2 separate regions of the Homo sapiens genome follow, and region 2 is linked to region 1. The links come from fine-mapping of genetic effects on gene expression. Tissue or cell type: monocytes after interferon gamma. Region 1 holds a variant in brackets; the other region holds the start of a gene. All regions are shown on one strand. Distances are from middle to middle.

The links. PIP is the estimated chance that this variant, and not a neighbour inherited with it, causes the effect.
Region 2: PPHLN1 starts here. The variant in region 1 is fine-mapped to the expression of PPHLN1 in monocytes after interferon gamma (Fairfax 2014, PIP 0.95).

What each region holds. Positions count from the first base shown.
Region 1 is chr12:42,258,502-42,263,713 of GRCh38, forward strand. No RefSeq gene overlaps it. Among named protein-coding and RNA genes, the nearest start is that of YAF2, 23 kb to the left of the region's middle. The variant G/GTATTTATT (reference allele first, on the strand shown) is at 3,064.
Region 2 is chr12:42,323,744-42,328,875 of GRCh38, forward strand. It overlaps PPHLN1 (periphilin 1), which reads left to right and starts at 2,424. Exons shown (of 10, transcript NM_201439.2): 1 at 2,424-2,486. It overlaps ZCRB1 (zinc finger CCHC-type and RNA binding motif containing 1), which reads right to left and starts at 2,351. Exons shown (of 8, transcript NM_033114.4): 1 at 2,181-2,351; 2 at 276-361. The coding sequence starts at 359. It overlaps MIR7851 (microRNA 7851), which reads right to left and starts at 116; the gene lies at 1-116. RefSeq lists an enhancer at 2,047-2,096.

The DNA.
Region 1 (5,212 bases):
TCAGCCTCCCAAAATGATGAGGTTACAGGCATGAGCGACCACACCTGGCCTTACTTAACATTAATTGGATTAAAATATATATATATATATATATATATATATATATATATATATATATATATGCAAAATTTTTTTTTTTGAGACGGAGTCTCTCTTTGTCACCCAGGCTGGAGTGCAGTGGCACGATTTCGGTTCACTGCAACATCTGCTTGCCAGGTTCAAGCGATTTTCCTGCCTAAAACTCCCAGAGTAGCTGAGATTACAGGTGTGCACTACCTACCTGGCTTTTTTTTTTTTTTTTTTTTTTTTTTTTTTTAGTACAGACAGGGTTTCATCATGTTGGTCATGCTGGTCTCGACCTGAAATGATCCACCGGCCTCAGTCTCCCAGAGTGCTGGGATTCCAGATGTGAGCCACCGTGCCCGGCCAGAATTAAATATATTTAAAAATTTTTAATATTAATAAATTTGTAAAGAAGCAAAAACCAGTGGTTGGGGCATTATCTATAGCCAGTGTAAAAAGAAAAAAATTACTCAGTGATACCTGTTGAAGCACAGTTAGGAAGATTTTATTCAGTACCACTGCGATAGGAAGAGGGACCACCACAATGAGGTCTTGCAGTGGGAAAGAGAGATTGGGCTCAACTTCAATAACATCACAGTGGGAATTATAGCCAAGGAGCAGAGTGGGAGTCAGTGGATAGAAATTTACAAAGAAGAAATGTCAGGGGTAAAGAGGATTCAAGCTAAACCAAACTAACAGGATGTTTCCTGAAGACAGGCCAGGGTGACCAGATATCACCTGGGGAACAGGGAGAATGAGGAACCTGATCAGGTATTGAAGATGATCAGATATCATGGATGAGGGCAGTTCTTGTCAAATTCACCCAGCAGGGTTCTTTGCTAAAATGGGATTTTACAAGAAAGTGGACAAATGGGCTTAGCAGAAGGTTAAGAAGCCTGACTAGGCTGGGCGCGGTGGATCACGCCTGTAATCCCAGCACTTTGGGAGGCCGAGGCGGGCGGATCACGAGGTCAGGAGATCGAGACCATCCTGGCTAACACGGTGAAACCCCGTCTCTACTAAAAATACAAAAAATTAGCCGGGCATGGTGGCGGGCGCCTGTAGTCCCAGCTACTCGGGAGGCTGAGGCAGGAGAATGGCGTGAACCCGGGAGGCGGAGCTTGCAGTGAGCCGAGATCGCGCCACTGCACTCCAGCCTGGGGGAGAGAACAAGACTCCTCTCAAAAATAAAAAAAAATAAAAAGAAGCCTGACTAAAGTTTGGCCAAGCAAGGGATCTTTTGTCACCAGATTGCCAGGATTCAGATTCTGCTTCTGAAGCATACTAGCTGTGTAACTGTGGGCAAATTACTTAACCCATGGCTCAGTTTTCACATCTGTAAAATGGGACTAATAATAATATGTACTTACAGGATTATTATGAGGGTTAAACCACTTAATATATGTACAGCCCTTGGGAAAAGTGCCTTATTAGTTGGGTGTGGTGACGTGCACCTGTAGTACAAGCTACTAGGGAGGCCGAGGTAGGAAAAATCTCTTGAACCTGGGAGGTGGAGGTTGAAGTTAGCTGAGATTGCACCATTGCACTCAGCCTGGGTGACAGAGAGAGACTTTGTCTGGAAAAAGAAAGAAAGAAAAGAAAGGAAAAAAGAAAGAAAGGAAAGAAAGAAAGAAGAGAGAGAGGAAGGAAGGAAGGAAAGAAGGAAGGGCACCTAGCACTTATATGTAATATCTAAGTGCCAGCTGTTTTTCTGAGGCAGCTCAACACAATGGCTAGACTCTAGAGCCAAACTGACAGTTTCTAATCCCAGTGCTACCACTGTCTACCTGAATATTGGAGAAGTTACTTAACTCTCCTGTGCCTCAGTTTCCTCACCTATCAAATGGAGTGATAATAGTACTTGCCGGGAGGCGGAGGTTACAGTGAGCCAAGATCACACAATTGCCCTCCAGTCTGGGCGACAGAGCAAGACTCCATCTCAAAAAAAAAAAAACAAAAAAGAATTATTGTGGGTTGATAACACAAAGTACTGTGGCTGGTACGGTAAGTTCTATGCAAATGTTTGCTTTTACCTGGCTTACCTGAGTGCCACTGGGGCTTGAAAAGGAGCATTGCTCTTTTCTTTCCTCTGACTCATGGAAGCCCAAACAGCTTAGTGGAATTGTCAGGTAGCCCATCCTCCCTGGACTCACTGAATACTCTCATGGGACATCTAGGCCACCTGCCAGGATTCGTTCTGCCTAGGGTGCCCTGTCCCTAGGCAAAAGAACAATTCAGGCCAGGCAAGGTGTTTCATGCCTGTAATCCCAGCACTTTGGAGGCCGAGGCGGGCGGATCACTCGAGTTCAGGAGTTTGAAATAAGCCTGGCCAACATGGCAAAACCCCATCTCTACTAAAAGTACAAAAACTAGCCTGGCGTGGTGGTGGGCACCTGTAATCCCACGTACTTGAGAAGCTAAGGCATGAGAATCACTTGAACCCGGGAGGTGGAAGGTGCAGTGAGCCGAGATCATGCCAGTGCACTCCAGCCTGAGCAACAGGGCGAGACTCTATCTCAAAAATTAAAAAAGAAAAAAAAAACAATTCAGGCAAAACAACAATTATGATTATTTATATTTTATTTTAGAGACAAAGTCTCACTTTGTCACTCAGGCTGAAGTCCAGTGGCACAAACATGGCTCACTGCACTCTGACCTCCAGGCTTAGGCAATCCTCCTGCCTCAGCCTCTTGAGTAGCTGGGACTACAGGTTCATGCCACCACACCCGGCTAATTTTTGTATTTTTTGTAGAGATGGGGTTTCGCCATGTTGCCCAGGCTGATCTTGTTGCCCAGGGTGCTCAAGTGATCCACCCGCCTCAACCTCCCGAAATGCTGGGGTTACAGGCATGAGCCACTGCACCCAGCCTATTTATACAAATTAAAACAAGGAGAGAGGTATAGAATCAGCTGAAGGTTGTAACATATTTGAGTTGGCTCCAGTTCTATTCTGGAACTGTTTTTTATCTAAGTATTTTTTGTGTCTAAATATTTCTCAAA[G/GTATTTATT]TATTTATTTATTTATTTATTTATTTATTATACTTTAGGTTTTAGGGTACATGTGCACAATGTGCAGGTTAGTTACATATGTATACATGTGCCATGCTGGTGCGCTGCACCCACTAACTCGTCATCTAGCATTAGGTATATCTCCCACTGCTATCCCTCCCCCCTCCCCCCACCCCTTCTCAAAGTATTTATCACTTAGGTCCTCTGGACCTCAGTTTTCTCGTTTGCAAAATGAAAGGATTGTACTCAAAAATCTCTCACGATTGTTCTTGGTATGAAATTCTAAAATTCTATCATTCTATTCACATAATACATAGTGTTTGGGCGCGGTGTGGCCTAGGAGAGATGAAATCTTAGTTTCTATTTGAATCAAGGCCAAAACTCAAATGCCACTGTTGGTGACAGCTGCCTAAAGTGTAGATCTCAACAAACCTTATACTCTCTTTTTATTATGAAGTGAAAGGACCAAAATAAATTGTAACCTTTATAGTGATATGTATTTCTATGGCTAAATTGCTATAAAACTCCTGAACTACTTGAAAATAATAGAATGTTACAGGTCTGAAAGTTTCTAAAATCTTCTCAAATCCAAGCATAAATTTTAAGTTTAAATGAGGCATATATTACACACACACACACACACACACACACGTAAAAGTGCTTTGTAGAGTTGATACATTTTACAAATGTAAGATGTGATCACGTATAAAATCAATCTGGTCTTATTTTAATAGAAGAGCTTTATAATAATAATTTGTGGAGATGGAAATCTCTAGTTATTTAGCAAGCATAGAGAAATTCTTGCTTCTAAACTGACATCAAAGCATTTCTAGTTGATAAGATGTCCAAGTAAGATTTCATATATATGAAGTCATGCCAGTTGCCAGAAAGAGAAGCAGCTTTACTTTGAGGGTTTTGAGTTTCCACATTTGCTTTTAGCTTCTTTGCCAGAGGCACATACTTCTCCTCCACCCCAAGAAATTTCTATGATGTTTTTAATAGCAAGGCATTTTTTCCACGGCCTTTTTACTTTTATGATTGCAGAATGAATAATCGGTTGGCAAAATTTGTTAATCTATTATTATGACTCCTAGTTTATCATGTAATGGTTAATTCTATAGTATTCTTTAAAATATGGCTTGTGTTCATCTTTGTAGTAATACAGTGATCTATTTACCAATGTATATTTATTTGTAAGACAATTTTTTGTACAAAACCATATTATCATGCCTGAAACAATATTTACAACATTAGCACACCTCTTCACATATTCTGCAGCATCTCTTTTGATGTTTCTTGATCATATATTCACTCTTTCACTAGTCACTGCAGGAGGTCTCCAGATTATTATTAACCAAGGTTTTCATTATATGTATGCAATCATTTTCTAAAATTTATATTTCAATTCATATAGTAAAATTCACTCATCTATGAATTTCAACTAATGCATTCAGTCATGTAACCACTAGCCTTGTCAAGATATAAAATGATTCCAATATCCAAAAATATTCGCTTATGCTACTCCTTTGTAGTCAACCCTTTTACCCAGCTCTAACCAGGTGGCAACTACTGATCTGGTTTCCACTCCTAGAGTTGCCTTTCCCAGAATGTCATACAAATGAAATCATACAGCATGTAGCCTTTCCTGTCTGGCTTCTTTCACCTAAAATAATGCATTTGAGATTCCTTAATGGGGTTGCTTGTATCAATAGCTTGTTCCTTTTTATTGCAGAATAGTATTCCTTTATGTGTATGTACCACAGTTTGTTGACTCATTGCCCAGTATAAGGACATCTGGGTTGTTTCCAGTTTTTGGCGATTATGAATAAAGCTGCAGTAAACATTTGCATGCAGTATTCTGTGTGACTATAAGTTTTCATTTCTCTTGGGTAAATATTTTGGAGTGGGATTGCTGGATCACATGGTATTTTATATTTAAATCAGTAAGAAACTTCCAAACTTTTTCTCAAGCTAGCTGTACCATTTTTCACTCCCCCTAGCTATATGTGAGAGTTCCAGTTGTCCCAAATACTCATCAACATTTGATACTGTCAATCTTTATTTTACTATAGCCATTCTAGTGTGTACTAGCATCTCATTGTGATTTCAATTTGTATTTCCTTTTTGACAAATAATGTTGAACATTTTT
Region 2 (5,132 bases), 65 kb after region 1:
ACCTCAGTCTCCCAGGTAGCTTGTAGAGGCATGGTGGCACACACCTGTATTCCCAGCTACTTGGGAGGATGAGGTGGGAGGATCACCTGAGGGGGCGGGGAGGCTGCAGTGAGCCATGATAGTGCCACTGCACTACAGCCTCGTGCCTCAGTGACAGAATTAGACTGTCTCAAAAAAAGAAAAAAAAAAAAAGGAAAAAAGAATTTGCCAGGGAGAACTATTTGCTTAAGGTTATCTGTATCTCAAATAGCAGTCACTCGATAAGATTTACTTACCCGGTACAAGTCATTGTTTGTCAGGGAAAAAGGCAAGTTGGATACATACACTGTGCTCTTACTTGGAGCCAATCCACCACTCATTTCTAAAAGTGAAAACAAACTTATCAGCAATCAGTCTAAACCAGGATTCTTTTTTTGTTGTTTGAGACGGAGTTTCCCTCTTGTTGCCCAGGCTGGGGTGCAATGGCGTGATCTCGGCTCACTGCAACCTCTGCTTCCCAGGTTCAAGCAATTATCCTGCCTCAGCCTCCCGAGTAGCTGGGATTATAGGCATCCACTACCATGCCTGGCTAATTTTGTATTTTTAGTAGAGACAGTGTTTCACCATGTTGGTCAGGCTGGTCTTGAACTCCTGACCTCAAATGATCCACCTGCCTCAGCCTCCCAAAGTGCTGGGATTACAGGCATGAATCACCACACCTGGCCTAAACCAAGTATTATTAATTCCAAATAAAACCAATACATCAGACCAGTCTGGGTATTATTTGGAAAAAAACAAAAAACAAAAACCAATAAAGTATTAACAATCACCGATTTAATTATGCCAGATGTGTACACCTTCCTTACATTTTAGGAAGTTAGGAACAATGACTCCAGCAGGCTGAATTAAGGAATTCCTTTTTCCCAGTCACCACTTAAAAAAAATTCTTTTTTGGTTCTTCTTCTTTCAAGTATTCTTTATACCAACACTTTCAGTGCCAGATTGTATGGGTAGGGAGACGGGTTTTGAACAGATGAAGGAAAAACCCTGAGGCTACTCCTAACTTCCACTCAGACCATGAGCAAAAAAAATGCTCTATTGAATATGTACTGTATATGTACATTACCTGCACCTTGCTCACCCAGGTCAGAAAGAGCATGGGGACTCAGACAGAACCTTAGCCACTGATTTTTGCTAATACACAGTCATGCTATGCTTAATGAAGGAGGTATGTTCTGAGTGTTACGTGATTTCACAGTGCAGACATCACAGGGTGTACTGAGACAAACCTAGATGGTCTAGCCTATTGCTCCTAGGCTACAACCTGTACAGCATGTTAATGTAGTGAATAATGTAGACAGTTGAAACACAATGGTAAATATTTACATAGCTAAACACAGAAAACGTACACTAAAAATATGGTACAATGTATTACACTCTTAGGAGACCACTGTGGTATATGTGGTTTGTTGTTAATCAAAAAGTTGTTATGCTGTGCATGCCTGTACTATGGCTGGGTACCTTTTTTGCTTGTCTTAATATTTTTTTTCTCTGGAGTGGTGTGTTAAGAGGAAAATTTTCTTTTCCCCTTTTAGTATGATGTTAAGGAGTAAATTTAAGCTTTATGTATCGACAATATAAACTTCTTTCGAAACGCTAATTTTGCTTATTGCCAAATTATGAAATGATACATTATATAAATAGGCTTGGTGCCTCGAAGAGACAGACCTGTAGGTATGTGTGTATATGTATATAAAGTTTACAAATGTAATCAGTAATTTTCACATCTTATCTTACAAAGTCAGCAAATTACCGTGAAAATATCAGGCTCAACCAAATTCAAATTTCTGATTTAAAAAGAGCGTGCGGTGTGTATTTGAGATGGGAAGATCAACCATCACAAATGGAAAAATACTGACTCTATGGCATGCCAATTCGTGAAGGAATGAGAAAACTGCCTCATGTTTGGTGTTATGGGGGAATTATTTAGAAAACTTCAGGAACTCAACATAGATACGTCGCTTTTTAAGTTTCTCATTTGAAACTATGCGTTACACGTTCTGCTGAGAGCCGCGAAGGCAGGCAGAGGTTAAGGTCCTGGAATAAAAAGGGTGGCGGGAGAGAGGGGCAGAGCGTTTTGGCAGCCGAGTCTGGGGAGGGGGCCCCGCAGGAGAGAAGGCCGCAGCTGAGGAGGCGTTTACCTTCAGGTGGGTTGGGCCTGGGAGACCAGAAGAGTGCGAGCCCTCGGCTCAGCTGGGGCTCAACCCCGACTCTTCGTAGCCGCTCGCAGCGGCCTTGGCATCACGAGTCCTGGGAGGGGTCAGGCGCGGAGAGCAGATAATAGCAGCCACGGTGCTTCTTCCCGACTGTTTGAGATCCGGGCCCCGAAGGCGGGCCCAGAGGCGAGCGCTTCGCTAACGTCATTGCGCGCGCCGGAAGTACCTACCTGGGATAACGGCGGCGAGCGGACGGCTGCATTTACGGGGTCTCCCGGAGGGCCAGAGTCGGTGAGCGCTTTTTACCTTTCCCAGAGATGGATGCAGAGCGTGTGCGGGCTGCTAAACGGGGGGGAGTGGGCGGGAGTTTTCTGTGTCGGGTCCTGGATTCTCCTGCCTTTGAATTGTGTGACAATTCTGCCCATGCGGTTGAGGGTGGAGAGACGCAGTGGAGTTTGGAATAAAGGGAAGTATTGAGTCTAAGATAGGGGTTCGCCTCTCTGTAGCGCCTTAATATGCAAGAAGACGACTGAGCTAGGTAACTTCAGTGACCCGAGAGGAGTCAGGAAGTCGGTAATTTTACTGAAGGTGTTCACGGTACCCAGCTATTAGGCACTTTGGGAACTACAAAATAAACAGACCTTTTATGTTTTGTTTTGTTTTGTTTTCTGGTGAAGATCTCAGTCTAGTTGGGGAGACGAGGTCAACTTGGGGAGAGTTGGATTCACAGAATGACTCATCTTTAGTATGGGTATGGACAAGTGTTGATCTTCTTGGCACCTTTTCTCTTCCTGTAAATCTATAATGGCTACGCACTGCTTTTTCTCTAAGAGGCCATAACATGCCCACCATTCCTACAGAAAAATCAGAACGTAATGCAAGGTAATTTATACTTCTGCCTACCAGCACATACAGACCAGGCCTCTAACCACTCCCTGGGAGCCTGCGTTCCAGCAGCCTGGAACCCACAGCCTCTCCTGGAGCCTGCACAATCAATCCAGAGTGAAGCCGATGTCTTCTATAGAGACGGAAGTACAATCCATCCAGGGCGCAGCTGAATTTTGAGAGGCCTGAATGCCTCCGTGGCCGACAGGAGACCGCTGGCACTAATTCTCTAGGCATACTTGTGGCCAGCCAAACTTACCATGCTTTACATCTCTGTTATCCTTGGTTACCGCCCAAGATGTAAGCTTCTGTGGTCTTCTGTGCTATAGTCTCATTTCCATGCTGCTTTGTGCTTTCTTTCGACTTAGGCTATCACTGCTTCTTCGTTTCTTCCCCATTTAACCCCTCAACACCCCATCTGTGCTTTCTGAAACCTCTATTTCCTGCTTAAACTATTTTACATATTCAACTTCTTTAGTGAAATTCTCCTTCATCTCCTAACCTTAACTATTGATAACACGTAGATTTTCCTGCCAGCCATTTCAGTTGAGCCCTTTCTCTGACCCTGCATTTAAAGGTTGGGCATGGCTGTAGCCATGTTGAACGGATTTCAATTCCTCAGAATACTTTCTTCCCTCAGTATCTTCACAAAGGCTCTTTTCTCTCTCTGGGACATTTGAGCTCCCTGTTTCCTCCTATCTTTTTCTGGATAACTTCTATTAAAGATCTGAGTTTAGCTGTCACTTTACTTGAGGGGTATACCCTAACTTCCATAGAGTTAGGTATTTTTGCTATGTACTCTTAGCTGTCCTGCACTTCCCTCACGGCATTTATCACATGTATCTTAATTGCTTCTTTGCCATCCCTACTAAGCGAGACTGTCGGTGAGGGACTGTGTTTGTCTCGTTTATCTTTGTAACTCCAGTAGCTAATACAGTTCTTGGCACATAAGACAGTCAGTTATTTCTTGAATGATTGCAGGTGCTGAAGGTATGCTGCAGAGATCAGGCAGTTAACGTTAATGAATACTTCACCCTTAGAAGGGGTCACCTGCCACTCAGCTACAGCTGATTGTGGCTATGTGAGAATATGATCCCAGTTTTGCCAGAACATCTAATTTTTTCAAAAAAAGTTGGAAATACCATTTTTTAAAAAGCATCCTCTCCCAGTTTTTAAATGTTGTCAGTGGAATAGAATTTTATTAAAAAAAAAAAAGTGGGTCAAACACAAGTCTCATATGGCCTATCAGTCACTAGTTTGGAATCTGTTTTAAGTCTTGTAGGGTTTATATAATGGGCTTTGTGGAGAATAATAGGTTTTGAGTTGGGCCTTGATGGACCGTTGGATGTTGAATGAGAGAATGGAAAAAGATATCCCGTTTGGAAAATAAACAGCTCCGTGGTAGTATGTGTTAGTCTGTTTGTGGCACAGTAAGGAAACAGGCATAATTATATGCTTTTGGAGAGAATAGAAGGTTAGATATAATAGAAGGAGGCATATGGAAGATAGAAGTTTGGATTTATTATGGTTAATAAAAAACCTCTTGGATTCTTGATCCTGGAAACTTCACATTATGAATATGCGTTAACAGTTGATTATCCTTTTTTAGGGTAAAATGGAGGGTAAAACACTGGAAGGAGGCTGACCGGTTAAGGCCTTAACTTCCATCCATATATGAAATAAAATTCAGATTTATAAATATTATATGTAGGCAGACATCTGGCATTTTTGTTTACTTGTGTAATTTCAGTTAATTGATCAATTATAATGGACAATCAGGGATCTCCTACTAAGTTTAGTGCAGTACATTCGGGCTTATAAAAGAAGTATCCTTAAAGCGTTGGAAAGTCAAGTGACTTGTGAAACTAGTAGAGAATGCAGTACTTTTTATTTTTTTATTTTTTGAGACGGTGTCTTGCTCTGTTGCCCAGGCTGGAGTGCAGTGGCACGATCATGGCTCACTGCAACCTCCATCTCCCAGGTTCAAGGGATTCTCCTGCCTCAACTTCCTGAGTAGCTGGAATTACAGGCATGTCCCACCATGCCTGGTTA